Regions from separate parts of the Homo sapiens genome. Here region 2 is linked to region 1. Evidence: fine-mapped expression QTL. A gene starts in region 1. The other region holds a variant in brackets. All regions are shown on one strand. Distances are from middle to middle.

Region 1 (17,299 bases):
CTAACAGCTTTTAACTAGCATACAGAGGTGTTTGATTGAAATTCCTCCATTGAAAGTAATACCTTCCTTAGAAGCAGAAAAAACAATCCTAAAATTCCTATGAAACCACAACAGACCCCTAATAGCCAAGGCAATCTTAAGCAAAAAGAACAAAGCTGGTAGGATCACACTACCTGACTTCAAAACATAGTACAAAGCCATAGTAACCACAACAGCATGGTACTGGCATAAAAACAGACACACAGACCAATGGAACAGAATAGAGGACCGAGAAATTAAGCCAACTGATTTCTGACAAAGACACCAAAAACATACGCTGGGGAAAGGACAGTCTCCTCAAGAAACGGCACTAGGAAAACGGGATATCCCTACATAGTAGAATGAAACTAGATCCCTATTTTTATCATATACAAAAATCAAATATAAATGTAGGAAAGACAAATGGAAGATCTGCAACTATAAAATTAGTAGAAGAAAACATAGGGGAAACACTTCAGGACATTAGTCTGGGAAAAAATTTGATAGATAAGGCCTCAAGAGCACAGGCAACAAAAGCAAAAATAGGCAAATGGGGTTATATCAAAATAAAAAGCTTCTGCACAGCACAGGAAACAATAAACAGAATGAAGAGACAACCTGGAGAATGGGAGAAAATATGTGCAAACTATTCATCAGACTAGGGAGTTAATATCCAGAATGTACTCAATCATCTCAACACCAAAAAGACAAATAACATTTTTAAAAAGGGCAAATGATCTAAATAGACATTTCTCAATAGAAGGCATACAGATGGCCAACAAGTATATGAAAAAATGCTCAACATCACCAATCACAAGGGAAATGCAAATCAAAACCACAATTAGGTATCTCATCCCAATTTGAATGACTATCACCAAAAATACAAAAAAATAACAAATGCTGACAATGATTCAGAACAAAGATACCTCACACACACCATTGATGGAAATGTAAATTAGTATAACCATTGTGGATAGCAGTATGGAGGTTCCTCAGAAAAGTAAAAACAGAACTGCAATACAATCCAGGAATCTCACTACTGGGTATATATCCAAAGGAGATGAAAACAGTATATTGAAGAGGCGTCTGCATTCCTATGTTTACCACAGCACTAATCACAATAGCCAAGATATGAAATCCAACAGTACTCATCAACAGGTGAATGGATAAAGAAAATGCAGTATACATACGTCATGGAATACTACCCAGCCATATTAAAGAATGAAATCCTGTCATTTGTGGCAATGGAGATGAGCCTGGAGGATACTATTAATATGTTAAATGAAAAAAGTCAGGCACAGAAAGATAAATACTGCATATTCATACGTGGAAACTAAAAAAGTTGATCTCACAGAAGTAGAGAGAAGAATTGTGGATACTAGAGGCTGGAAAGGGTTGGGGAGGATAGGGACTCTGTACCCCATAAATATGTACAACTGTTATGTGTCAATTAAACAACAGTTACTTTGTCATAGTAAATGTTTTATTTATCTTTAAGACAGAGTCTAGCTCTGTTGCCCAGGCTGAAGATCAGTGGCGTGATGTCAGCTCACTGCTACCTCCGCCTGCCAGGTTCACGCGAATTCTCCTGCCTCAGCCTCCCGAATATCTGGGATTATAGGTGTGCACCACCGTGCCTGGCTAATTTTTGTATTTTTAGTAGAGACGGGGCTTCACCATGTTGGCCAGGCTGGTCTCAAACTCCTGACCTCAGGTGATCCACCCACTTTGGTCTCCCAAAGTGCTGGGATTACAGGCCCACCATGCCCGGCCTGTTACAGTAAATGTTTTAAATTTATAAAACATGCACTGAGTTCAAAATATGTTTGTATTTAATTATTCATCTTTAATCTACCAATGAACATACTTCCAGAATATATGTTTGTTCTGATTTTACAATGCAGAGAATGAGTTACAGCGCTGGAGTTAGAAGCAATGTGTCCTTACTCTCAATTCAAGGCTCGATTAACTTAGTTGATACATGAAGGCCAAGTTCAAATCCTTTCTCTGTGACAAAATATAAAGAGCACTGCATCAGGAATTGAGAAACCCATTTCTTACTTACGCACTAACTATCCATAACAATTCCTAGCTTCACCTTTTTATTCACCCATAAAACTGGTGATAATACCATTTGTCCTATTTCACAAGGCACTGTAAGGTTCAAATGAACTGATATTCCAAAAACTTTAAGGCTAAATAAATGTAAAGTATTATTTAAAAAAATACCTTTCACATAATTTGCGATGGCTTCTTTTGTGTCCCTCTCTGGGTCAATGCTGATGAAAAGTGGAGTTAGATCTGGCAGAGTTGTAATGCTATCTGAAAGAGAGTTCCAATTAGTCCGTATTCACACCCTAAGGGAAAAGACAAAGAAAACCAGCAATAACAGGAGAGTATAGGACGTGCTGGACAGCTAGGTGTTTTGAAAGCAGATGGACATCTTAACATTCAGGTGAAGAGGAAGAGGACGGGGAAGGGGATGGAGAAGGGATGGCCTTTAGGAGGAGGAGACCCATATACAGTAGTATTATCTGTGGTGGATAATACAAGGTTACATATCCTATCAAATGCCTGCACCAGCACATAAATGTTCTTCCCCTGGATAATGTCATGTGGCTATCTTATCTCTGAATCCACTCCAGTATCTGTAGTTTTTTTCACTCCCACCATATCTCAAGGGCAAGAAGGTAAATTGTTAATAAGAGCTGAATATCCTGAAATAATTCACTGTATGGAGGAGGCACCCTTCCTTCTTACTAGTACTAGTAAAATGCCACAGACTGCAGACCATTGCAAAGATTTCCTAATTTAATTGTCACAATCAGTGGGGAAGAGGCAATGGCAGCATCAGTGATGCAAAGGAAGGGACACAAAAGTAGAGTTAAGGGAGACCACACTGACATTTTTAAGTGATCTAACATTTAACATCAAAACAAGCTTCTTTCAGTGGAGAATAAGGTCACAAGATTCAAAGCAACAAACAAGCCAAATGCTGAGATTTTATGTTCTTACAAATCACATAATTGCAAAACCCCACCTAACAATAATACAAGGGTGTGAAAAACCTGGTAACATGAAGTAAACATATACTTTGTTTAGTTAGTGATGGCTTTCTTACCTATTTCATCCACGACTTGAATCATCTTTTCTAGTTCTTCTGGACAGACATCAGGGCAATGAGTGAAGCCAAAATAAATCAATAACCACTGACCCAAGTAGTCCTTGTCAGTTTTACGCTCCCCAGTATGAGTTGTGAGGGAAAACGGTCCCCCAAGTAAAGGCTTGCCGATGTGTCGCTGCCGTTCCTTCTCTAACTCTTAAGGAGACAAAAACATATCGACACCAAAAAAAAAGTCAATTTAACCAGAGGTACTCAAATACCTGACATATGGCCCGTACTATGCTACTCATGGTGGGGGCACAAAATGTGGAAAAAACAGTTTCAGTTTTCAAGAAGCTAAAAAAATCTTTTCAGAAAAATAAGCACAAAACATTAAAACAAAATCAAATGAAATGCTATGGTATGTTGTAAAAAAGGAAAAAATATTTCTTCTTTTTCAGGAACAATTCAGTCCTAAGCCATTAGCTGTGTCCATGCTGGGGGCAGGGAGGGGCTGCAGTGGCCTAGAGCTGAATGTCTAAACAAGTGGGGTGCGGTGGGTGGCCTGGCATAGGGAGTCTGATCCTGAGGGTGCTAAGGAGGGCAGCTGGGTGGGGAGGTGATAGTGGTGACGGGACCTTAGTTACACACAGGAAATTGATGAAATAAATGAGTATATTAAAGAGAAGAGAGTTACAATAGGAAACAAGAGTCAACTATGGAGAGAAAGAGAGCTAGGCTGAACCCTGCAGTACTGCAAATACACTGCAGGTACTAGTGTGAACTTCTATCTATATAGATATAAATAAATATAGATGTACATAAATATATCTATTTTCTCACCATGTCCACTGAGAGGACCAGGGAGCAGACACACTCCAAGAACCATGAGCCCAGAACCTGACTTCTAAATATCATTCTTCACTAAAAGGAAACAGCTTTTTGGAGAAATGGCTGATACCAGGGTTGCGGCAAAGAAAGTGTAAAATGAGGCTGGAACCTCTTGTTGTGGCAGAAGGAAAGCAGAACTTAGAGAATATTGGAGACGTGTCAAAGACACAGAAGCCTGCTCCAAGGGGGCTCCCGCTGATCAATCTGGGACAACTTGGGCATCAAAATAAAGAGAATATGGATTTAAACTGAATGAATATATAGGAAACAAGTCCACAGATATAAATAAATGAATACATTGATAGTGGGATGGGGAACAGAATATGTAAGTATACGTATGTCAATACAAATCATGAAACACCATTAATTACATGAGTAACTTTTCAGTAGAAAACCTGTTAGACACACATTAATCAAGTGATCAAACTGGACATTATCAGTAATGGGACAACTGGTACTATGTGGTATCTGACCAGATGCACGGAGAATACAGCATCACTTTTGTGATATTCCTGCCAAAGGTACACAACCCGAATGACCTGAATGAGGAAACATCAGACAAATCCAAGCTAAGGGGCATTCTACAAAATAACTCTCCTGTAACTGTCAAAGCTGTCAAGGTTGTGGGAGTCAGTTAAAGCCTGGGAAACTGTTACAGATGAAGGAGGCTAAGGTAAACAACTAGATACAAGGTGGTATGGTTCTGAAACAGATCCTTTTGCTCTGAAAGACATCAAGTGGCAAAACTTGGAAGACTGAACTGTAATCCAGCCTGGGCAACAGGAGTGAAACTCTGTCTCAAAAAACAAACAAATAAACAATACCCTGAAGATTATCTGAACACTGAACAGCAGCAAAATTATCAGCGTCAATTTTCTAATTTTGATGGTTGTATTGTGGTTATGCTAGAAAAGGTCCTTGTTTGTAGGAAATACACCAAAAAGTGTTTGGAGCTAATGACGCAACATGTCAGCAAATAAATACTCTCAAATTATTTAGGAAGACTTTTCAGATTATTTAATAATACATTTTTTAAATAAAACAAACGTTAGAATTGCACTTGAAATTCCAAACTAAAGTCAAAAAAAGCTTCCATATTCTAGAATTTTCCCGCCACAACTTTCCTAGCTTTTGTTTCTTTGTGAAACTAAAGAAACTTACTGCTTATTAGACTATGAAAATCTTACCCAATACTACTTATTATGCCAAAGAGTCTCATATATATGTATGTCAGTACAAAACTTAACACTGCTAAGTTCCTAAAGCCTATGAATTCCCAGATTTAATCATTAACCTTTGTATATAATGTTATCAAAAGAGACTCCAAAGAATGGAAAGATTTAAGCAATACTTTAAAGATTTACCTAAAACCTCTAAACCAAATCTTAAAAGTCCTAGGATATTCACTAAAATGCAAAGTTCTTATAAATAATTTCTAAATATTTCAAGATGCTAATCCAGAGCAGTTCCTGGCATTTCCTGACCAGGCTCTTTTCACCTCCCCCTCATCCACAGAGGGCATGCAGTATCTACTCGCACTATGCTCCTTGCCTGATCTCTAGGAAGCCTTCTCAAATCTCAAGGCTGGGACTTGCTTTTGCTCTCACAACATGGTAAGCTTCCTTCTGGCCTGGCAGAATCGCATCTAGTAAAATACTTTACTTCTGTGTCTGTTTCCCTTCCGTGTGCACCTCAAAGGCTCGACTACATCTTACTCATCTTCGTACCCTCCAGATTTCATCTTGCCCAGTCAAATCTATCCACAGTATATCTTTTAACATTGTTATGCAGTGGTATCCTAGCTTGGATCCTGGAACAAATAAAAGACATTGATAGAAAAACAAGTGAAATCCAAATACAATCTGTAATTTAATAGTTGTGTGCCATTTAAAATTTCTTAGTCATGAAAAATGTGTCATGGTTATACAAGATGTTAATATTAGGGGAAGCTGGGTGAAAGGTATGTAGAACCTATGCTATCTTTGCAATTTTTTGGTAAATCTAAAGTTGTTTCAAAACAAAAAGCTAAAAAACAACAAAAAAGGTGCTAGTCCATAGCCAGGAAGACCTTTATACAGGGCTGAGCAGATGATAATCTACTTACTCTCTGCCTTTTCTTTCTTGACGTGCTTCATTCCAGCCAGTAAAGCTCCTCCAATAGCAAATGTGATTGCTAAAGACTTCCAGGAAACAGGCTACTGGGGCAGGGATTTCAAACATAAAAATTCTAGTAAGATGCAAACATTTAACCATACAAACTTATTAAAGTAGTTTTTAATATACATACACACAGGCCATGATGTTAAATGTGCAAAATGTTTCAGGGATGAGAAAATGCTCAAAGTTTCTGTGGATGCAGTTAGGTCTGGGATCTGAACTACAAAGGCATTCATCTCCAGGGGAAAGTTCCCTAAGTCAGTTCTCTTCATGTAAATAAAAAAAAAAAAAAAAAAAAAAAAAAGCTCAAGTACCACGATTGTTACTATGTGTGACCCTAGCTCCAGTAATGACTTTAAAACCAATTATGGCCGGGCGCGGTGGGTCACGCCTGTAATCCCAGCACTTTGGGAGGCGGAGGCGGGTGGATCACCTGAGGTCGGGAGTTTGAGACCAGCATGGCCAACATGGTGAAACCCCATCTCCACTGAAAATACAAAAATTAGCCGGGCGTGGTAGCGGACCCCTCTAAACCCAGCTACACGGGAGGCTGAGGCAGGAGAATCGCTTGAACCCGGGAGGCGGACGTTGCAGTGGGCCGAGATAGGGCCACTGCACTCCAGCCTGGGCAAAAGAGCAAAACTCCGTCTCAAAACAAAAACCAAAATCCAAAAACACACACACAAAAAACAATTATCTGCTTATGCTGATACTGAGATAAATAGACCAAACGAAATTTGGGAGGTTAACTTAACTCTGGCTTCCAGAAGTAACAATGCCAAAGTAGAAGAGGAATCTAAAAGTGGAGCTTCTTGCAAATTACACCCATTATTTCTTTGTACCCTTATTCAACTCCCCAAATGAAGATGATGTTGGCCAACTAGACTAGGCCTAACTCATTAACCTTCCCGTAGCTCCAAAAACCCACTTCTCTTACCACAGGGTAGTGGCTCTCAAGTTATTTCTGGGTCAGAATTAGAACTCGAGAGAACCCCAAGAAAAAGGCAGATCCACACATAACTAAGTTCCACTTTTTGTTTCAATTTCAACGTATACATGGAACTCTGGATGGGGCTCAAGTGACAAATTATAAAAGTCCTCTGACTTCTCAATCACGGTAAACTTTAGGTTCATACCCTTAAGAAAACCTGAAACTTAATTTTTTTTTTTTTTTTGATGGAAACGCTAACATAAAATCCAAGTCGGGGCATCCAGCCACGTGGAGAGGGTGTAAAGTCTCAAGTTCTCTGTGGAGAACTGGGACTACCCGCAAGGCACGGGAAATGTAGGATGAAATTCCATGACCCAGGTAAGGCGCGCAAGCTAAGGACAACTTTAGGGGAGGCGGAGTAGTGTCTGAGGTTACGACCAAGTGGGATGTGGCCGCTGGGCTGGCCGACAGCCGCGACGAGCACCAGAAGGGTTCCAGGTGTGCACTCACCCCGGGCTTCGAGGGGCGCGTGGAGTCTCCGGGGCCCTTCTGCGACCACGGGGGTGGCGGCCTCGCAGTGCTGAGGGGCCGGGTTCCCAGGCAATAGCCAGGGCGCCCCGAGGCACGCCACGCCTCCGCTTGCCGCGCGCAGAACTGCCTCAGCAAGACTCTCGCAGTCCCCTCGGCTGGGCCCCAAAACTCGAGTCCGCGAGGCAAGAAGCGCCAAAGTTGGCCACCCAGAGGCCGCATAACTCGTCCGGGTACTAGGACCAGCATCGCCATGAGCCTCGGAGACCGGGTCTCCTTTGACCCTCCCCGCGATTTCCGGTAGCGTTCCGCTTCCTCCGGAAGTCGGAAGGAGTCGCTCTGTCCGTCCCGCTCGTTGGTGGCGCTGTTACATAGCCCGTAGTCAGAGGCCTTTCAGCCCAGGGGCCGGCGCACGGTAGGTAGTTCCCTGCGGCTGGAGGCGGGTCTGGCGCGGGCTGGGCGGTGCTGCGGGGCCGCGGGACAGCGGAGCGCCGGGAAGGGGGCTGCCTTAGGGGTCCAGGTGCGCGGCTGGGCCGAGGCAAGGCGGCCCCAAGCGCTGGGGGCCCCCGCTTTGGTCGTGGGCTTCGGTGACCACAGCTAGCTCCTCGCGCCGGGGACACCCCCACCTCGGAAGAGAGAACACACTGCCTAGAGACCCACGGGACTGGGCAGCCCCCATAACCCTACCTTGTCTGGCCGACTTTGTCAACCTCGTCCTGCCGGCCAAGAGGAAGTGCCAGAATGTTGACTCCTTTACATCTTTGAAATAGAAACCGACCCATTGCGATTGAAATAGTCTTTAACTTAAAAAAAATTGCTAATTAGGATAATTTGAGTGGTTAGGGCGGTCTGGAAGAACTTTAAATGCCCAGCGCTTCTAGTTATTTAACATTATAATGTAACCTAATTAATAAAGCATAGCAGTGTGTAAAGAAATATAGACAGCATGATATCCCATCCGTTAACTTAGTCTTCCTGGGTCCCAGTTTCTTAAAATACTCTCACGGACTCCCTTGCTCCCTACAGTTTCGTTATTTGAAGTTTGTTATGGGTTCCTCATCTGGAACTGCTTATGTTCCTTGTTAATGAGGCCAAGAGCATTCGTAGGTTTTTCGTTCTTTGTGAAAGTCTAACTTCATTTCATCTGCCTTTATTTATATCTTAATATCCGCAATATTAACCACTCCCTCCCCGCCCCTACCTCGGTGGTTGCTTTACAAAATACAGAGAAATAAAAAAAGGAAAATCGTCCTCTAATTATCTTCCTTAACTACAGATCCCGCTCCTGTGTGGCTTTTTTTTCCCCCATGGGACCGACTCTGAGTAGGAGAAACTCGTGCTCTGATGATTGTTGGACCAGAGCATGGTTGGTTTGCTTGTTTTCTATGAGTTAGCCAAACTAGCCAACTGTTCTGTTCTCTAACCCAGTAACGGAACATAGTGTTACCTGTGTTTCTTGATTCGCGGTTGGACTAGAATTTTCAGAAATTTCTGCCAAAGTTCTTAAATGTTTGTTCAGCACTTCAAGTCGTTAATCAAACTATTTTTTTCTATCTTATAGTTGCCTGTGGGTAGGATTTTTGCTCTTTTATCTTTGTGTATTTGTTTGCCCAGGGATAATTTTTTCTTGTAATTGACAAAAAGACATAAAAGTACCTTGTGTAGTCAGGCAGATAGCATACAAAATTATTGTTCATCTCTGATTGCCCAATTGTAGGTTACCTGATCAGCCACCCAAATTAAGATTGAAGTCAGTGTTTCTACCTGATCTATTAAATTTTATTTGCTAAAGTGCTTCTTTTAGTAGCAACTTCTTCATATTAATTTTATAATATTAAATAAAATGCTATCATTGAAAACAGTTCTTGGGGCCAGATGTGGTGGCTCACGCCTGTAATCCCATCACTTTGGGAGGCTGAGGTGAGTGGGTCACTGGAGCCTAGGAGTTTGAAGCTGCAGTGAGCTGTGATCGGGCCACTGCCTTCCAGTCTGGGCAACAAAGCAAGACTCTGCCTCTAAAAAATAAATAAAATAAATATAAAATATAGTTCCTGGCTCAAAGTAGGTGTTTTATAACTGCATTTTGGATGAATTGCTAGTAACACCTGAGCCTGATGGCAAGGACCCATGAAACTTTAGTGCCAGAAGGCGCCTACAGTGTTATCCCTTATAGACCTTATCACTTTTATTACTGCTGTGAAACCACCAAAGTCACCAAATGAGGTTTATGTTTTGTTTTCCAAGTTAGATATTTTTCTTTTCTTTCTTTTTTTTTTTTTTTTTTTTTTGAGACAAAGTCTCCCTCTGTCGCCCAAGCTGGAGTGTGCAGTGGTGCGATCTCAGCTCACTGCAACCTCCGCCTCCTGGGTTCAAGCGATTCTCTTGCCTCATCCTCCCGTGTAGCTGGGACTAGAGGTGCGTGCCACCAGGCCTGTCTAATTTAAAAAATATATATATTTTTAGTAGAGACAGTGTTTCACCATGTTAGCTAGGACGGTCTCGATTTCCTGACATCGTGATCTGCCCGCCTCGGCCTCCCAAAGTGCTAGGATTACAGGCTTGCGCCACCACACCCGGCCCCAATTTAGATATTTTTCTTGAGAGAAGCAGGGCATGGATTAGTATCATCTGATATTGGTTCTATCAATAGTGATCAGATTTTGTTCTTGACATAACTTTAGGCTGGTTTGACTGGGGACAGCTAGGCCCTAACTTTTGTGAACTTCCCAGCACCCTAATGTGTTTACTTCATTTTTGTTCCAGGCCCCTGCCCCTTGTGCCTAACTCCTAACCACAAACATTTCCTGCCCCAACTTAACTTTCCTTTTGGTATGGTATCTGCGTAGAAAACATATGCTGCACCCTTAGGCTAGGAGCCTCTGTTACAATAGTTTCTCCTAACAAAGTCTCTCTTTATTAATCTCTAGACTTTCCCTGCTGCCCCCTTCACCTTTGACAATAGAGTGAAGAAATCATACTCTTTTCAGGGTAGAGCTACTTCTTTTACAAGTTCATTATTGATGCTTGAAGGCTTTCCACAAGGAACTTCAGCCTTCTGCCAATCTTAAGTATTGGAAAAGTTTTATTAGTATGATCTTATAGCAACTTTTCAGTAATTAAGCATCCTTGGGTATGGGAGGCCTGAGGCAGGTGGATCACTTGAGCTCAGGAGCTTGAGACCAGCCTGGGCAACATGGCAAAACCCTATTAGTATGATCTTGTAGTAACTTTTCAGTAATTAAGCATCCTTGGGTATGGGAGGCCTGAGGCAGGTGGATCACTTGAGCTCAGGAGCTTGAGACCAGCCTGGGCAACATGGCAAAACCCTATCTCTACAAAAGAAAAAAAAAAAAAAGCCAAAAAAAGTCAGGTGTGGTGGTACATGCCTGTAGTCTTAGCTACCAGGGAGGCTGAATTAGGAGGATCACTTGAGCCCAGGAAGTCGAGGCTACAGTGAGCCATGATCGCACCACTGCACTCCAGCTTGCGCAGTAGAGCCAGACCCTGTCTCAGGAAAAAAAAAAAAAAAAAAATCTCTCATGCCTAAGGTAGTTTTCTCAAAATACTGGCTGCTTATCCTGTACTATGACATGATAGGAATTTTGAGAGCAACTCTTGTAAACTTTTCTACATTATTCTCTTCTATTAAAATGTTGCAGTAGTTTCAGTTATGAGGCTCATTAGACAGATTTTCAGATATATAATTTTAAAATTATTTTCTTAACATGCGTATAGTACTTTATGGTTTAGAGATTTACAGAGTAATAGTTTACTGTGATCATAACTCAGTTGAAGCTCACGATAACCTATTGAGGGTTATTTTGCTTCAGGAAACACGAGGACTATAATTCAGTTCTGGGTTTTTCATTTCAAAGGGTTCAGCACTTCATAATACCTCTTTAAAACTTAGACAGCGTAGCATGTAATAAATGGTGCAGGCAAACTTTGAAAACAAAGTTCACTAAAAACTTGCCATTCTCCTTTCTATTCAAAAGCGAAATATTTCCTTAGGTCTTCTAATTTTTCCAGATTTGATTTTCTCTAAAGTTTTGAATTTTCTTTTTTAAAAAAACTTTATGTATACTTTTTTTTTTTTGAGATGGAGTCTCGCTCTGTTGCCCAGGCTGGAGTGCAGTGGCGCGATCTCGGCTCACTGCAAGCTCCGCCTCCCAGGTTCACACCATTCTCCTGCCTCAGCCTCCTGAGTAGCTGGGACTACAGGCGCCTGCCACCACACCCGGCTAATTTTTGTATTTTTAGTAGAGATGGGGTTTCACCATGTTAGCCAGGATGGTCTCGATCTCCTGACCTCGTGATCCGCCCACCTTGGCCTCCCAAAGTGCTGGGATTACAGGCGTGAGCCACCACGCCTGGCCTATATGTACATTTTTAAACACACATAAAAGTAGTTAGAATAAACTTCATGCACCCATTTCTAGCTTCCACAATTATCCTGTACTCACTGATTTTTTTGTGTGTCTGTATTTGATGGAGGGAGGGAGCTATTTTGAAAACATTTCCTGACATTAGAATGCTTATTAATTCTAAGTTTCCTCACTGGAGGTGGCTTTGAGTTTTTGATCTCTCTGTTCACCAGGACCAATCTTTCTGAGCTCCCCCTACATGTCCCTGAACCAAGAAAGGAAAGGCTAAACTCGCCAGGAGAGTCAATTCCCTGACCACCTGGTTCTTTTTGCACTGCCGTACTCACTTCTGATCCTATCTTTCCCTGAATATGTTTCTGAAATCTGAAATGGCCCCAAATCAGAAATTTGAGCACCAACATGAAGCTCAAAGGAAATGTTAATTGGAGCATTTTGGATTTTGGATTTTCAGATCAGGAATGCTCAACTGTTAAGTATATTCCAAAATCTGAAAAAGTCCGAAATCTAAAACACTTCTGGTCCCAAGCATTTTGGATAAGGAGATACTAACCTTATTTTTAAAAGCCATGTATATTCAACACTTTGGATCTCTCTTTTTACCCCAGAACACATCGCTGTTTTGAAGTGTGTGCCCCTTGGTGCTTCTCTCCACATTAACTTTCCTTAAAAATTGCCAGTTCTTAGGATAGCCTTGAGTTTTTCTAAACTGAACTTGTTCCAGTGGAAGGTGTATTTGAGAGGATTTTGGTATCAAATGACAGAAAATCAATTTGATTTAGCTTTAAGCCCAGGAGAATTTATGTGCTGACATGTGTAACTAAATGACCAGTGTTCTAGCAGGGACAGGTGAATTTAGGTATTCAACTAATGTTTTCAGAAATCTCCATCTTTCCATCATTCAGAATTGTTTCTTTCTATGTTGGATTTCTTGTCAGTTCATTTTCTCCAAAAATTGAAGCCTTAGTTTATCAGCGTTTGTAGTAGTGGCAGTGCCTGTCCCAGGGCTGATGCTTATTGTGACCCAGGTTGAGTTACATGCCTACCCCTAACTGGCCAGAGGAAACTGGGTTTTTACGGGCCAGGTCTGGGCCATGTGTCTGCTATTTCACTTCCCCAGCCAGTGAATGGGGTTGGAGGTCAGACCACAAGAACTGAGAGTGGGGAATTGGATAAATGCCTAGAGAAAAATTGGGTGCTGTCACCTTAAGAACAGGAAATGAATGCTGGGTAGGCAAAAATAACAGCTGTCCACTGGAGAGAAGATCCAATTCATTGGGACTAAATCCCCTCTAGGAGATCCACAATACATATTATCACCATAAAGGCTCTGAGTTTAAAGATAAAAACAAGCTCACTTGGCAGGGGATAAGATCACCCCCAGAAATAGTTTTCTCTTAAGAGTTAATATAACTCTTAATGGTTAATATAACCTTAATGGTTAATATCACCAAGGTTAATACAACCTTGGTGATAATATTCATGTTATATACTTGCTAAGTTATCTTCTGATTTGATTCTTCTATTAATCTGAACTTGGAATCGCAAATATTTGAAACCTAACATAAGGCTAAAGATTTTTAAACTGACTTAGATGGATTTTTGTCCTGTAATTGTATTGAAGTTACCCACTTTTCAAATCAGATTACCTCTCATTTATACACCCTCATACATACTGACTTGATATCTAATGAGATTTTCAGGTAGGGGCTGCAGGAAGAAATGGGCAAATTAAAAAAAAGTATGAGAACACCATGTTTAAGGATTTCCATCTCTTTCTGGTGCTGTTACCTATTTTAGGGCTAGTTATACCCAACCAGATTAAGGAAGAAAGTAGCTGAAACTCATAATTAGGTGGATTAAAGAGTGTATCATTAGTAACAACAGTTTTAGGATGAAAAGAGGCCCCTAATTCTCAAATAAGTCAAATTGAAGTCTTATCCTTATTCCAATTGTGGAGTTGTTCTTTTCATCTCTTATAGGAGTACTCTTAGAGTTGGGATTTTACATGTCCACAGAGGATTAAGTAGGAACTCTGTAGATATATTTGTCAAATGACTAGAGATGGGGAGTCTGAAAGTAATTTTAGAAAGTCAAATGAATTTTTAGGTTTTAAATAATTCAGACACCACAGCAACAGTTTATTACTATAGTCTTTATGACAAAAATCGTTGACAATTTAGAATCTTGGCCTTTGAGTTTTGTTTGAATCATTAGCGTTCTGGGCTCTTTTAAGAGATTATAATTTACAGTTTAAACAATCGAATAATAGTTTTTTCAAGTTTAAATCTTGCTCTTTTTGGCCACTGAGGCAGGGCAGAGATCATTTGTAAGAAGAAAAGATTTCATATTTTTGGTTTTGATTGTGGGGTAGCTTAATATTCAAGTTAAAAAGAAAAAAAAATCCTGGTTCAAATTAGGATCCAGGGCTGGGTGTGGTGTCTCTTACCTGTAATCCCAGCTACTTGGGAGGCTGAGGTGGAAGGATTGCTTGAGCCCAGGAGTCCACGACCAGCCTGGGCAACATAGTGAGACCCTGTCAAAAACAAAAACAAAAACCACAAACAAAGCAAATTTTAATCCCAGCTATTGAAGAACCGGGAACCACTGCTCACAGAAATGATAATAGTCATGTCAGTTAGTTTTTGTGCTGGATTTTTGTTGTTGTTTAAAATTATTCCTCTCCTTTCATATCTGCATTGCCTCCCACTCACCTATTCAGATATAAAATATGAGAAACTGGGTGACCTACCCACCAAGGAAGAGAAAAGATTCAGCCTGACACAAAATAACCCATAACAGGAACCTTTTACAAAGTACATACAGTGAATGAATGTAATACACAGCTTTCCAAAAAAAAAAAAAAAAAAAAACTTGAAGTTTTGATAGAATTATTTGGTGTTTGTGGGACAGGGGTATATGTGTGTGCGTGTGCATGTGTGTTTAAAATGAGTATTTCTTAAAAATTAGCAATTATTCCAGATTTAAATTGGGCTTTATTAGCATTAGAATGTCTATTTATTGATAGGATAGTACCTTTTGTAAATTGTTACTCTTCTGAAAGAGTTTATCATCTGTTTTACAGAAGAGAAAGCAAGTGTTTTAGAGGGTTAGTAGTTTAGACCTAAGACTGTTGGGCTCTAAAGCCCACGTACTTTTTCCTGTACCAAGCTGCCTAATGAATTAACCTTTAACATTCCCTTTATCATTTTCTTAAGTGAAATTGGGAAATTAAAACGTTTATAATTTAGTTATCGTCTTTTTACTTTATTTAGAAACCTGTTTGGAGGTTATGGATGATAAACCCAATCCTGAAGCCCTAAGTGACAGTTCAGAGCGTCTTTTCTCCTTTGGCGTCATCGCAGATGTTCAATTTGCAGACTTAGAAGATGGCTTTAATTTCCAAGGAACCAGGCGGCGATACTACAGACATAGTCTTCTTCACTTACAGGGTGCCATTGAAGACTGGAATAATGAAAGCAGCATGCCCTGTTGTGTCCTTCAGCTTGGAGATATCATCGATGGATATAATGCACAGTATAATGCATCCAAAAAGTCCCTAGAACTTGTTATGGACATGTTCAAGAGGCTTAAAGTTCCAGTTCATCATACATGGGGAAACCATGAATTCTATAACTTCAGTAGAGAGTATTTAACACACTCTAAACTTAACACTAAGTTTCTAGAAGATCAGATTGTACATCATCCTGAGACCATGCCTTCAGAAGATTATTATGCTTATCATTTTGTACCATTCCCTAAATTCCGGTTCATTTTACTTGATGCATATGACTTGAGTGTCTTGGGCGTGGATCAGTCTTCTCCAAAATACGAGCAGTGTATGAAGATATTGAGGGAGCACAATCCAAATACGGAACTGAATAGTCCTCAAGGTGAATTATTCCTTTGAGCTGAGAATCTAATAGATTGTCTTTAAATTCTTCAGCTACCTTTTATTCAGCAGGAAGATGGACAATTAAGGTAAAAGTATATTGTCACTTGTTCAGGGTCAGGATTTCTCACAAGCCTTCTCACATGGATTGGTTACAGTTGATTCAAGATTGATTTAACAGATATTTTAAATGCCTATTTTAGGCCAGGCACTTTTTCTAGGGGTAGATATTCCGAGCTGTAAACAATACTAACAATATTACTTTTTTGATGGATGGAATGGAGGGAACAAACACAGTACGTGGGCAAGACAGATGATAAATGAAACAGAAACAAGATTATTTCCACGGTCGTAAGTGCTGCCAAGGAAATAGAGTATGATGTTATAGAGTGTTACGGAAAAGGATTAGGGTTGCTATTTTAGATTAGGTGATTAGGGAAGGTCTCTCCAAGGAGAAAGATATTTAAGCTGAGACCTAAATGACAAGGAGGAGTCTCCCTTGGAATGAATGGGCATAGGGAGTTAGCAGACTGAGGGAAAAACCTGCAAAGGCACTAAATGGAGTAAGACTTGAGCATTGTTGAAGAGCACAGGAAAGGGCCAGTGGGGTACAAGGTGATTTTAGAGTGTAAACGGGGCCAAGAATATGTAGCGGCTGAGTGGACTTAAGAAGTTTGCATTTTTAATATAATGGAAAGCCAGCGAAGTAAGCAGGGGACTGTCAAGAGTGAGATGCAGTGTGATATATATATATATATTTCTCTAAATGCTTGTGATTTCCTATTTTAAGTTGATTGTTGCTAATCAGATATTCCTAAAGAAAAAACAAGTGTCCCTACATTAACTAAATTTGAATGTCCAAATGAGGGGAAAAATGACTTGATGGGGCTAACTTACTGAATTCATTTCAGGACTTTCTGAGCCCCAGTTTGTCCAGTTTAATGGAGGATTCAGCCAAGAACAGCTAAACTGGTTGAATGAAGTGCTAACATTCTCTGACACAAACCAAGAAAAGGTGGTGATTGTGAGTAAGTATTTAATTTATCTGATTACACTAACATTTTAGAGATTGGGAAAAGTTAGGCGTTAAAGCATACTAACAATATTTGTGTTTCGATATCCTCTTTCTATAAAATGGACACTTAGTTTAAAAATTTCTATTGAGAAACCACCTGAATATAAGATTAACATTTAAGGATGAACCAGGAAAAGGTAAATAACAGAAACATCTTGCCATATATTGGAGCCTGTGAGTTGGCCTTTTAGGTTCAAAGTCGAATTTCCTCAAATGAGATCAGTTTATGAAGTAATTTCTTTTTTAAACATTAATATTATTATTGAAATCATTGTAGATTCACGTGCATTTGTAAGAAATAATTCAGAGCAATCACTTATAT
Region 2 (13,453 bases), 27 kb before region 1:
GCTGGAAAGTTTGCAAAGTTAATCAGAGTAAATTTCCTGAAAATGTCAAACTTCGATCTGTGAGTGAAAGGGAGAGCTGGTGCTGAAAGATGAACAAGTAATGAGTTGACGGGGAAACCTAAGCCACGGGGAAACCTAAGGAGAGGACTCAAGATGAGAGTCAGGTCCAAGACACTCAGCTGGCAAAAAGGAGACGACCCCGTATCTATGGTGGGGCAGGTGGCGGCTACCGTCGCAGGCTGCATTGAACTCAGATGATTGACGGGACCCTTGTGGTAGGGAGCTCAGAGCAACATGATTGAAGCCGAGAAGAATGATTTGAGCAAAACAGGTGAAGACAGATTCCAAGGACAAAAAAAGGAGGCAGGCATGGCCCAGGACCTTGCCAGGGGATTTGGAGAAAGGAATTAAAAGTAATGGATGGGCCTGAACAATGACATAGACAAGGAAGCAGATAAATTAGTCTGCCAGCTATATATCAGGCATGGAAGGGAAAGATCAAAGATCACTGTGAGGTTACCAAAGGGATGAAATTGGGAGCAAACGGCATCATGATAATAGAAAATATAGAAGAAAGGTGGCCAATTTGGGAGGTAGGGGTTGGTTAAAATGTAAGCCATAACCTTTATTTATTCATTTATTTTTATTTTTTATTTTTTTATTTTTGAGATAGAGTCTTGCTCTGTCGTCCAGGCTGGAGTGCAGTGGCACGATCTTGGCTCACTGGAACCTCCGCCTCCTGGGTTCAAGCGATTCTCCTGCCTCAGCCTCCCGAGTAGCTGGAATTACAGGCACCCACCACCATGCCCAGCTAGTTTTTGTATTTTTAGTAGAGATGAGGTTTCACCATGTTGGTCAGGCTGGTCTTGAACTCCTAACCTCCAGTAGTCCGCCCGCCTTGGCCTCTCAAAGTGCTGGGATTACAGGTGTGAGCCACCGAACCCAGACTATAACCTTTAATTTAACACTGAATTTTTGTTTAAAGCAGCGATTTCAAACCTGGCTATCCCTTAGAATCACCCGAAGAGCTGTTTGTATAATCAATTGGTTCTGGAAGAAAAGACTCTATAGCAATAGAGAGGATAAAATACTTAAGAATAAACTTAACAGGAGATATGCAAAACTTTAAACTGCTGAAGGACACAAAAGTAGATATTCCTTGCTTTGGATAGGGTGATTCACCATCATAAAGATGTTAATTATCCTCAAGCTAATATATAAATGTAATGCAGTCCCAATAAAAATACCAACACTTCCTTTTTCTGGAGCTAGAAACTTGATTTTAAATTTTGTGGATGTATGGTAAAGAAAATACTGAAAAAAGAAAAGCCACAGGAGGACATTCTGCCAGATACTAAAACATACACTCTAAAGTCTACATAATGAAGAGGGCAGTGCTATGCATGAAGAGACAGACTGACCAGCGGAACAGCATAGAGAGTCCAGAAGGAGGCCCGGATACTTATGGAAATGTGATACCTGAAATGGCATCTCAAGTCAGTGGACCAAAGATGGACTCTTTAATAAGTGGTGATGAGACAACCAGATGGCTATTTGGAAAAAAAATGAATCCGGATCCATACCTCACACATACACCAGATTAAATAACAAATAGATCAAATCAAAATGCAAAGCCAGGAAACAGGCACTAAACTAGATCATGGTAGATTCTTTTATAATCTGGAAATGGGGAAGGCCCACCATGACTCAAAAGCAGTAAAATAAAAAACAATAGATAAATCCAACATCATAACAATTAAAAATCTTTATAGGAAAATTAAAATAGAGCCAAAAGACATGACAGGCTAGGCACAGTGGCTTATGCTTGTAATCACAACACGTTGGCCAGCTGAGGTGGGAGAATTGCTTGAGCTCAGGAGTTCCGGACCAGCGTGGGCAACAGAGTGAGACCTTGTCTCTACAAAAAAAAACCAGCAGGCATGGTGGTGCATGCCTACAGTCCCAGCTACTTGGGAGTGGCTCATGCCTGTAATCCCAACACTTTGGCCAGCTGAGGTGGGAGAATTGCTTGAGCCCAGGAGTTCTGGACCAGCGTGGGCAACAGAGTGAGACCTTGTCTCTACAAAAAAAAAAAAAAAAAAACTTAAAAAACTAGCCAGGCATGGTGGTGCATGCCTGCAGTCTCAGTCTCAGCTACTTGGGAGGCTGAGGGGGGAGGACTGCTTGAGCCCATGAGGCCAAGGCTACAGTGAGCTACAATCACGCCACTGCAGTCTAGCTCTGGCAACAGAGCAAGACAAAAACAAAAACAAAACAAAACTAAAAGACGTGATAAAATGGAAGAAAATATTTGTAATTTACATCACAAAGGGCCAACTTCCTTAATGCATAAATAATTCTTAGAAGTTACGAAGAAAAAGACAAGGAAAACAACAAAACCCTGCAGATAGCAACAAATGGCAAATAAACAAGCAGACGGTTTATAGAAAATGATACACAGAAGGGCTTTAAACATATGAAAAATGCTTACCTTTCCCTATTTAAGAAAAATGCATATTGAAAACACACTTTCTAACCAATCACATTGGAGAAAATCCAAATGCTGGGCAAGACATTCTGTTGGCAAAGCTGTCATAACACACACACTCACACTTTTCTGGTGGGTGGAAAATTGTGCAACTGCTACGGAGGATAATTTAGAAAAACAAACTAGCAAAATGATACGTGCAATTTCCCTTCCATTGGGAAAACCACTTCTAGGAACCTACGGTAAGAGATATTTTCACAAATACTAAAATACTGTGAGCATAACGATATTTATTGTGGCACTGTTCATAATAGTAAAAGATTGGAAACAGCCTATGTTTATTGACAGGAGGCTAATTGAATAAATTATGTTATATCCACATGAGACAATGTTATGCACCCTTAAAAAAGAATCAGAGGCCGGGTGCAGTGGCTCAAACCTGTAATCCCAGCACTTTGGGAGGCCAAGGCAGATGGATCACTTGAGGATAGGAGTTTGAGACCAGCCTGGCCAACGTGGTAAAACCTCATCTATACTAAAATACAAAAATTAGCCGGGTGTTGTGACAGGCGCCTGTAGTCCCAGCTACTTGGGATGCTGAGGCAGGGGAATCGCTTGAATCCAGGAGGCAGAGGTTTGCAGTGAGCCAAGATTGTGCCACCACACTCCAGCCTGGGTGACAGAGCAAGACTCTGTCTAAAAAAAAAAAAAAAAAAGAATTAGAAAGGTCTCTATGAGCTGAAATAGGTTAATTTCCAGGATATAGCGTTAAAAAAAAAACAGTGTTCTGGAATGTAATATTTTGAGACAAGAACATCTAACATAGGAAGGATAAATCAGACACTATTGAAAATGATTACTTATAGAGGGTGAATGGGACCCAGGAGAGGAGTGCCTTCTTATATGATTTTGACTTTTGAACCATATAAATGGTTTACAGATTTGAAAATAAATGTAAATATAAAGGAAAAAGCAAATCCTGAAATTGAATATGAACAGAACATTAATAAATCTAACATATCAAACTGATAACATAACTACACTTACAAAAGACTTAATTCCTGTCAATTTTGAAAAGTACTCTGTACATTCTTAGTGAGATATATTCAAAGCATAAAAAGAACTGCAGTGGCTGGGTGCGGCGGCTCACGCCTATAATCCTAGCACTTTGGGAGGCCAAGGCATGTGGATCACCTGAGGTCAGGAGTTTGAGACCAGCCTGACAAATATGGCGAAATCCCATCTCTACTAAAAATACAAAAATTAGCTGGGCGTGGTGGCGCGTGCCTGTAGTCCCAACTACTGAGGAGGCTGAGGCAGGAGAATCGCTTGAACACCGGAGGCAGAAGTTGTAGTGGGCCGAGATCACACCACTGTACTCCAGCCTGGGGGACAGAGGGAGACTCTTCTATCTATCTACCTACCTATCTTTCTATCTATTCAAATCTACAGCCTATTTTAGGTTGAAAGAGATCAAAGAGATAGAACAAAATGCAATACTACATGAACCTTGGTGAGGTCCTAGGTTGAAGAGAAAGAAGGAAAAAAGGAAAGGAAAAAAAGAACAATCTGATGAGACATTTGGGGGACAAATTGAAGAAATTTGAACATAAACTGGATATGAAATGATACTCACGGAATTTGTTAATTTTCTTAGGTGTGTAAATAGCGTTACAGTTACGCAGGACACTGTTGCTTACTTATAGGAGTTTTAGACTGAAATATTTGGAGAAAGGTAACTAATACAACACACTGCAAACAAGAAGAAAATAAAGGAGTTTACATCAGTAGTTTTCTGATGCTTTAGTTTGCTTTTCTTTTACCACAAGTGAGGTTGAACCTCAGCTTACACACTTGCTTGTCATTTGTAGTTCTGTGAATAGTCTTCATATCCTTTGCCCTTTTTCTCTTAAGATGTTAATGTTTTTCTATTTTAAGAACTTTCACATAGCAAAGATTTTAGTAATCACTGTGTATATTACAAATATTTTCCCCATTTGTTTCTTATCTCCTCTGAACCTCTCTACAATCCCAGGGGTTAGGCAGAGCAGGTGGAATTATCCCCACTTGATTGATGGGGAAACTATGACTCAGTGGGGAATGTTTGCCCAGGGCAACAGGGCTGTGGGAAGACCTCATGTCCCAGGATGTCCTGCTGCCCCGCAGGGATGTGAGCCCTAATAGCATCTTTTAGGATTACAGGACAAATAATTTTCCCTATACAAATTAAAATTTCTTAAATATTTGGGCCTCAATTTCCTCCTCTCTTACCAAAAAAGTGGAGTTGAGGCCGGGTGCGGTGGCTCACACCTGTAATCCCAGAACTTTGGGAGGCCCAGGCAGGCAGATCACTTGAGGTCAGGAGTTCGAGACCAGCCTGGCCAACATGGTGAAACCCCATCTCTACTAAAAATACAAAAATTAGCCAGGCATGGTGGCTGGCGCCTGTAATCCCAGCTACTCAGGAGGCTGAGGCAGGAAGGCTGAGGCAGGAGAATCGCTTGAACCTGGGAGATGGAGGTTGTACTGAGCTGAGACCACGCCATTGCCCTCCAGTCTGGGTGACAGAGTGAGAGTCCATCTCAAAAAAAAAAAAAAAAAAGAGGAGTTGAACTAAATGACCTCTTAAGTCATCTTCAGGTTGGGCACGGTGGCTTGCGCCTGTAATCCCAACACTTTCGGAGGCCGAGATGGGAGGGTCTCTTGAGCCCAGGAATTTAAGACCAGCCCTGGCAACATAGCCAGACCCCATCTCTACAAAAAATAAAAAACAAAAAAATCAGCTGGGCGTGGTGGTATGTGCCTGTAGTCCTAGCTACTCCAGACGCTGAGGTGAGAGGATTGCTTGAGCCTGGGAATTTGAGGCTGCAGTGAGCCACGACTGCACCACTGCACTCCAGCCTGGGTGACAGACTGAGACCCTGTCTCAAAAGGAATAAAGAAAATAAAATAAAAAATCATCTTCAGCTCTGCTATCTTCTGATTCTGTGATTTAAGGCACAAGAGAGATTTACTTGGACCAAAGCACTGGCTTTATCTCAAAGCGTGTATGTATGTTGAAGGTGGGGAGGCAGAGGCAGCTGGGTTATCAGTCCCACGTGTGACATTCTCCAGGGGGAATGTCCATGACAGTACATTACCAACAACATTTCCTTCATAGGCTTGAGTTCCGAAATGCCTCTCTCCAACCAAAAGCAATCAAGCACACACTGCAACAATAAACTCCAGCATTTCTGTTCCATGGCCAAAGAGTAGTAGGTCAAGGGAGATACTACTTTTACCCACAACCCCTGCAGGCATCATCAGTGGATCACAGCACCCAACATTTGAGCCTGGCCACGGCTTCATAATCATACTTAGTGCTGTATTGTAGGAAGCAAATGACTTGACTGAAATTGACCCAGAGATAAACTATCTTACTGACACTAGACTATTTTTCCTAATGATCTTTTTTTTCACTGTCAGTTTCTCCAAGTGAAATTTACAGTGTTTTGTTTGTTTGCTTGTTTGAGATGGGGGTCTCACTGTGTTGCCCAGGCTTGTTTTGAACTCTGGGGCTCAAGCAGTCCTCCTAGTTCAGCCTCCCTAGTAGCTGGGATTGCAAGCACATGCCACAGTGCCCAATTAATAATGACTCTTTCTTACTGCAAAGTTAATATATGTTCATTTAGGAAGATGTGGAAAATAAAAAGCCATCCACAAACACACCACTATTATTAATGCCTGTTAAGGTTTGGGTATTTTTTGTGCTTATGCAAACAATGGGATCAAACTTCTACGGCTTACTTGCTCAAAGTACATATTGGATATCTTTTCAGATCATTAAATATTAATCAATAGCTCTATTTTAATGGTTCTACGGTACCCCACTTATGAATGTACCACTGTTTTATCTGCTGTAATTGTTTTTGTCTGCTTGTTTTTTGAGATGGAGTCTTCCTCTGTCACCCAGGCTGGAGTGCAGTGGCGCGATCTTGGCTCACTGCAACCTCCAGCCCCTGGATTCAAGTGATTCTCCTGCCTCAGCCTCCCTGAGTAGCTGGGACTACAGGCACGCACCACCACGCCCAGCTAATTTTTTTTGTACTTTTAGTAGAGACGGAGTTTCACCATGTTGGCCAAACTGGTCTCGAACTCCTGACCTCAGGTGATCCGCCCGCCTTGGCTCCTAAAGTGCTGGGATTACAGGCGTGAGCCACCATGCCCGGCCTCTGCTGTATCTTATGGATGCCCTAGAGTTGGGCATCTAGGTTGTTTTCCATTATTTACTATTTCCATGATTATTACAAAAATACTGCAGTGAACAAATTCTTGTGCATATCTATGATTCTGTTAATAAATGCATAAAGATGGAATAGCTGGCTTGCTGTATATCAACAAATTGCTACCCAGAAAGACTGCCACACTTCACATTCCATCGCTTTCCATGTGAGAGTCCATTTTACCCCCATCCTCAATGGGTAACATCATTCTTTTAGTGTTTTGTCAAACTGAGACAAAAATTCCACTGTTTGAATTAAATTATTAACTATTTGTATTCCTCTTTTCTGAAGCTGTTTGTGTCCTTTGCCCTGCTTTTTCTCAGGGTCATTTTTTTTTTTTTTTTTTTTTTTTGAGACAGAGTCTAGCTCTTGTCGCCCAGGCTGGAGTGCAGTGGTGTGATCTCGGCTCACTGCAAGCTCCGCCTCCCGGGTTCATGCCATTCTCCTGCCTCAGCCTCCTGAGTAGCTGGGACTATAGGCACCGGCCACCACGCCCGGCTAATTTTTTGTATTTTTAGTAGAGACAGGGTTTCACTGTGTTAGCCAGGATGGTCTCGATCTCCTGACCTTGTGATCCGCCCGCCTCAGCCTCCCAATGTGCTGGGATTACAGGCGTGAGCACCTGTAATCCCAGGGTGGGAACACCCGCGCCCAGCCAGGGTGTTCATCTTTTATTTCCTTATGAATTTGTAAACACTGCTTATATATCGGTGATAGTAACTCTTTGTTATATATTTTTGATCAAGCCTAGTAATGGTTTACTTTATGCTTTCTGCCTTTGCTGTCATGCTTACAAAAACCATCCCTACTATTTTAGTCTGACTTTGGTGGTTACAAAAACAGGCTCATTCTGAACCTCCAGAGAAAGAAAGGGAGGAGGCAGTGGGTATTGTAAAACTCATGTTCATTTTAAAGGAGGACACAGACTAAGAACCTAACTTGTTTCATTTCATTAATCACTGTTCCAATATTTTTAATAATCTTGATCATCATACTATCTTTGTTACATAGTAACGTTTTACATAATATGGATCTATTCCATACTTTTATTTCCAACTGGATCTTTCTGTTAAATGCTACATAAGTACTACACTTTAAAAAAAGTATTATGGCTCAGCAATATAGATTACTATTGATAAGGCAGGTCTTTCCTCCTTGGTCTTATTTTTCACATTTATTTTTCCAAATCTCAGAATCTTTCTGTTGAGCTACAAAAAAAAAAGACACTGTAATTTTTAAGTAAGGTTTATTGAGGTATGTATATTACAATTCACCCTTTTAAAGTGCGCAGTTCAGTGAGTTTTCACAGATGTATGCAGTTGTGCAGCGACCACTACCAAGACACAGATCATTTTTACCACTTCCCCAAATCCCCTCCTGCCCCTGGCAATCATTTGCCACTGCAATATTATTAGGCCTGTGTTGAAGACTTAAGTCAGGAGAAAACTGACATATTTACATTGAGTCTTCTCACCAAGGAACAAACTATTTTCTTAATTAATAGCTCATCATTTTTTCCAAAATTTTATAATTTTCTTCCCCTGGATCTGAGTCATTATTACATTGATTCTATTTATTATAGATTCTGTGTGGTTATTGTGAATTTAGTAATTTTTAAATACAGTAGGCATTGATTTTTGCATATTTACAACTGGATGCTGAGTAGATACATAAAACACTCAAAAGAGAGTTGAAGTTTAGGTGCACTAGTTGGCACTTTGGGGCCTCATGTCTAAAAGCTGCCCTAATTTTTCTTTTTTTTCTTTTTTTTTTTTTTTGAGATGGAGTCTTGCCCTGTTGCCAGGCTGGAGTGCAGTGGCA[T/C]GACCTCAGCTCAGTGCAATCTCTGCCTCCCGGGTTCAAGCGATTCTCCTGCCTCAGCCTCCTGAGTAGCTGGGACTACAGGCGCCCGCCACCACGTCTAGCTGATTTTTGTAATTTTAGTAGAGATGGGGTTTCACCATGTTGGCCAGGATGATCTCGATCTCTTGATCTCGTGATCTGCCTTTTCTTTATCTTGTCTGGTTATGTGCATCCCAGAGGCACTCTCCAGGGCCTACTTTTTATATCCCTCGTACTCAGCTTAACATAGGTATTCCGCAATGTTGACGTCGTCAATCAATCAGTGAATGACTGTCTTGTGCTGTGATCCCGCACGTTCCCGACAGGGCTTTCTGAATGTACGGGGCTGAGGCTGGTACAGGGAAAAGTGAGCCATACAAAGGCCTGCCCTGCTTCGGGCACTGAACGCTTGCCTGTCTCCGTTAGGAATGGAATGTAATCCTTGCAGGGCTCTCTGCCCCACTTTCTTCTGTAACTAAGACGGCCTTAGCAGAGCCTGGGCTGACAGGGAAGCAGGCAGTTAGTCTCTCAGTCTATTGCATCAGTGGTTCTCAGCAGCCTACTGCACTAGGGCCAACAGAGATCAAATGATCCTCAATCAGGTTTCAATTGAGTATTTGAGAATGCCTACATGGAAAGACTGCACTGAGCCCCGATAAGGCCCCACAGGGTAACCAAGCAGCATCTCTCCCTGCTTTTTGATCATATTATAACAACTCGATGGAGAAACGCTTGGTATACTGTGCTGAATAGAAGTTCTGACAGGGAGTGACAGTCGTCTTTGACAAAAATTTCAAAAGTGGGGCAATTAAATAATTATCAGAAAATGGAATTTGTTTATTTGAGAGACTCTTCAAATTGTGTTTCATGGGAGCGAAATTAAATAAAGAGCTTCCTGGAGGGGGAAAGATTACTTAATTCATTATTCTTTCTTGACTTTTTCCCCTTCCCTATTGGGTAAAAATTAATAGACTCTGTGGTATTGGGGGTTGAGGAGAATCCATGTGCCTAAGACTGAGGTGGGGATCTTGTTAAAATACAGACTGTGGGCCAGGCGTGGTGGCTCACATCTGTAATCCCCAGTACTTTGGGAGGCCAAGGCGGGTGGATCACCTGAGGTCAGGAGTTCAAGACCAGCCTGGCCAACATGGCGAGATCCTGTTTCTACTAAAAATACAAAAATTACCATGCACGCCACCGGGCATGGTGGCGGGCGCCTGTAATCCCAGCTACTTGGGAGGCTGAGGCAGCAGAATCACTTGAACCAGGGAGGTGGAGGTTGCAGTGAGCCAAGATCGCACCACTGCTCTCCAGCCTAGGCAACAAGAGCGAAACTCCATCTCAAAACAAACAAACAAACAAACAAAAAAACAGACTGTGATTGAGGAGAGCTGGAGTGGAGCCTGAGAAGCTGCATTTCTGCTAAGTACCCCAGTGGTGTGACACTGCCGGACCACAGACTACACTGAGTAGCAAGGCTGTAGAGGGAGTCTGAGTATTAGCTTTGCTACAAACTTGTAGATAATTCACCACTTGGGCCCTTCTTCCTCTATACAGTGAGGACATACCAGATGGTGTGTGACACGTCTGACATTGTGATGGCGAAACCACCTCAAGGTCCTCACGAAACCTTGGTGGCCAAGGCCCTTGGTATGACCTCTTGAGACCAGGAGGCTCTCACAGGCATCTACAGAGCTCAGCCTTGGCCCCTTACCTTTGCATCATCCTTGAATGGAAAAAGGATCACGGGCTGCCAACTGCAGACCCACCCAGGAATACTTCAGATGGCTCAAACACAGTGGTAATGTCCCTGGCTTACTCCATCAAAATGCAGTGAGCATCATCAGAGTGGTCCGGAGCTTGACTGACAACGACCAGCTGCTGCTCACCACAGCAGCCAACAAGGAATGTGCCCACTCTCCCCTTCAGTTTGCTCCTCCTCAGTGTCAGGGTCCCAGGGCCCTAGAAGTCTCTAAAAGCCACTGAGCAAACTTCTTTGCCTCTCAAAGCTGTGGCAACTTTAGGTCCGTCCTCCAGCTTAGGGGTGACTAGAGCGATTGATTTCCTGCCCCTTCAACTGAGGGTGAGAAGACACTGTCTCTGGGGCCTAAGTGTGGCTACTCTGCTCTGCCACACCACACCTGAGGCCCACTCTCCTACCATCTGCCTCCTGCTGTTGCTGAAGCTTGCTGACACTTTCTCCACGCTGTCTTCTTTCAGGCCTTCTCTCGCCTGGGCAACCTGATGCTGGCATTAGCTTTTATCTCTCTGCCCAAGCTACAGCAAATTGCTGAGAGCTGTCCAATGCATTCTCCACATCACAGACTTGCTTTCTTTCAAGACTGCCTTTTGCAGGGACTCTTTTTCCCCTCTACTTTTCTTTTGGAGTTATAGGGTGCAAACAGTAAAAGGCATAAATCTTAAGTTCAAAGTTTAATATGTTTTTATGTATGTAAATCATCACCCAGATCAAGCTACTGAACATTTCAATGGCTCTGGAAGCTCTCCTGGCACCCCCTTCTGAATTACTAACCATCTCACCTCCTGCCAGAGTTAAGCACTATTCTGACTTTTAACACGATGGGTTAGTTTTCCCTGTTCTCCTAGTATCATACTTCATCCTAACACAATTATTCCTGTTTTACAAATTTAAAGAAAAAAAACACCCAACAACGAGGACAAATGCGTTAGTCTTTTTAAACTGGTCCAACCTGAATAACGCCACCCTATGTTTAAGAATGGGAAGAGAGGCTTGGCGGGGAGGGTTGTCTTTCCCTAGGGTTGTGTCTTCCTTGAACTGGGTGCAAACATGGACAAAGTCACATGTATGACATGGAGACAACACATCCCCACAACGAACTGCATCATAGCTCCTTGAAATCAAAGGACCAAATTATAAACGAGTTTACACTGACTGGATATTTGATATTAAGCAAAAACCAAACGACAAAATCCAAGAGCAAAAACAAAAACCTTTTTGCTGTGCTGATGAAACTGTGGTTGTTTTTTTCTTTCTTTCTTTTTTGTTTTTTGAGACAACTCTTGTTGCCCAGGCTGGAGTGCAGTGGCGTGATCTCGGCTCACTGCAACCTCCGCCTCCCAGATTCACACGATTCTCCTACCTCAGCCTCCCGAGTAGCTGGGATTACAGGCACCCGCCACCACGCCCGGCTAACTTTGGTATTTTTAGTAGAGACGGGTTTCTCCATGTTGGTCAGGCCAGTCTCGAACTCTCAACCTCAGGTGATCCACCCGCCTTTGCTTCCCAAAGTACTGGGATTACAGGCATGAGCCACCGTGCCCAGCCAACTGTGGTTGTTTTTAAAGGACAAAGTTGGTCTCTTTCAGAGGCACATGCTGGGAATGGGCTGGGGTGGCAGTGGGTGGGGGGGTGCAGACAAAATTAAATGGTGGTAATCACTGAAGCTTGCTGATGGGTACATCAATTAGTTAACTATTCTACTTTTTGAATAAGTTTCCAAATTTTCACAATAAAAAGGAAAAAAAGAAAACTCAAGTTTTCTTTCGGTTAAATACCCACATCAATGTTCTCATGAAATAGTGCACAGAGTCAGTGACTTTAAGGCCCCTTATGAGGGGGACATTAGCATCCTCATGTTGAAGATTGAAAGGAAATACCTCCAAGTATTATTTCTTGGTAGTGGAACAACAGTGATTGAAAATTTTCTTCCTTCAACTTTTCTGTATGCCAAACTTTCTTTACTGAGGATATAGTATAATTACGGAAGAAGAGCCAACAAACTTTCAAATACATTGGAAAAGTATATAGAAAATAATTACCCCTATAAGGTCTAAAGGTGTTATTAAGGAATATGTGGCTAAAGAGGCTATTACTTGAATCTTGTTAATGAATAGAAATAACCGTCCATTTTGTTACACAGTAATATAACCCCTAACTGGTAAGTAAAAAGCACAAACTAGGCCGGGCGCAGTGGCTCACGCGTGTAATCCCAGCACTTTGGGAGGCCAAGGCGGGCGGATCACCTGAGGTTGAGAGTTCGAGACCAGCCTGACCAACATGGAGAAACCCGTCTCTACTAAAAATACAAAAATTTAGCTGGGTGTGCTGGTGGGCGCCTGTAATCCCAGCTACTCGGGAGACTCAGGCTGGAGAATCGCTTGAACCTGGGAGGCGGAGGTTGCAGTGAGCCAAGATTATGCCATTATTGCATTCCAGCCTGCGTGAGAAGAGCGAGACTCCATCTCAAAAAGAAACAAATAACAACAACAAAATAAAAACCAAAAAAAAGTACAAACTAATTGGGTAACAAATGCTCGCATGGGTGACTGCTCTTTTAAAGGTAGCTCATATACACATACACAAAGATTTAAATGGTACTAAACAGAAAACCAAAAAAGGTTTGGGAGATTATGGATGATTTGAAAATATTAATGTCAATTTCTTTTAAACATAAATTTAAGAACAATAAAAGCTATTTTAAAGGATCTTATGCAGACGCATTTACAATTTAAAATCATTAGCCTCCCAACTCGCATATTTTACTGGTAGTCAGTAAATCTCACCTCTTACACTTAAGATATCAGCTGCTTCATGAACAGCCAGACACATGAATACATTCATGCCTACTGCATTGATAGGATTCTTATACTTTTCAAATAAACAAGTGGCATTTCTTAAAATATTAATTCTATTGAAGAGTCTAGTGAAAACACTGTAACCCACCCAGGTAAAGATTTGCAAGGGATATTTCACTGAAACACAGCCTTGAGGCCGGGCGTGGTGGCTCACACCTGTAATCCCAGCACTTTGGGAGGCCGAGGCGGCGGATCACCTGAGGTCGGGAGTTTGAGACCAGTCTGACCAACATAGAGAAACCCAGTC

The links. PIP is the estimated chance that this variant, and not a neighbour inherited with it, causes the effect.
Region 2: its variant is fine-mapped to the expression of SCO1 in whole blood (TOPMed, PIP 0.92).

What each region holds. Positions count from the first base shown.
Region 1 is chr17:10,689,625-10,706,923 of GRCh38, forward strand. It overlaps SCO1 (synthesis of cytochrome C oxidase 1), which reads right to left and starts at 7,909. Exons shown (of 6, transcript NM_004589.4): 1 at 7,611-7,909; 2 at 6,117-6,207; 3 at 3,140-3,337; 4 at 2,248-2,340. The coding sequence starts at 7,883. It overlaps ADPRM (ADP-ribose/CDP-alcohol diphosphatase, manganese dependent), which reads left to right and starts at 7,970. Exons shown (of 4, transcript NM_020233.5): 1 at 7,970-8,043; 2 at 15,286-15,903; 3 at 16,814-16,930. The coding sequence starts at 15,303. RefSeq lists enhancers at 6,886-7,709, 7,710-8,534, 7,828-8,122, 7,838-7,887 and a silencer at 8,008-8,337.
Region 2 is chr17:10,664,495-10,677,947 of GRCh38, forward strand. SCO1 (synthesis of cytochrome C oxidase 1) reads right to left here. Exons shown (of 6, transcript NM_004589.4): 6 at 7,980-13,453. It also overlaps a transcript of MYH3 not described here. Among named protein-coding and RNA genes, the nearest start is that of MYH3, 14 kb to the left of the region's middle. The variant T/C (reference allele first, on the strand shown) is at 8,572.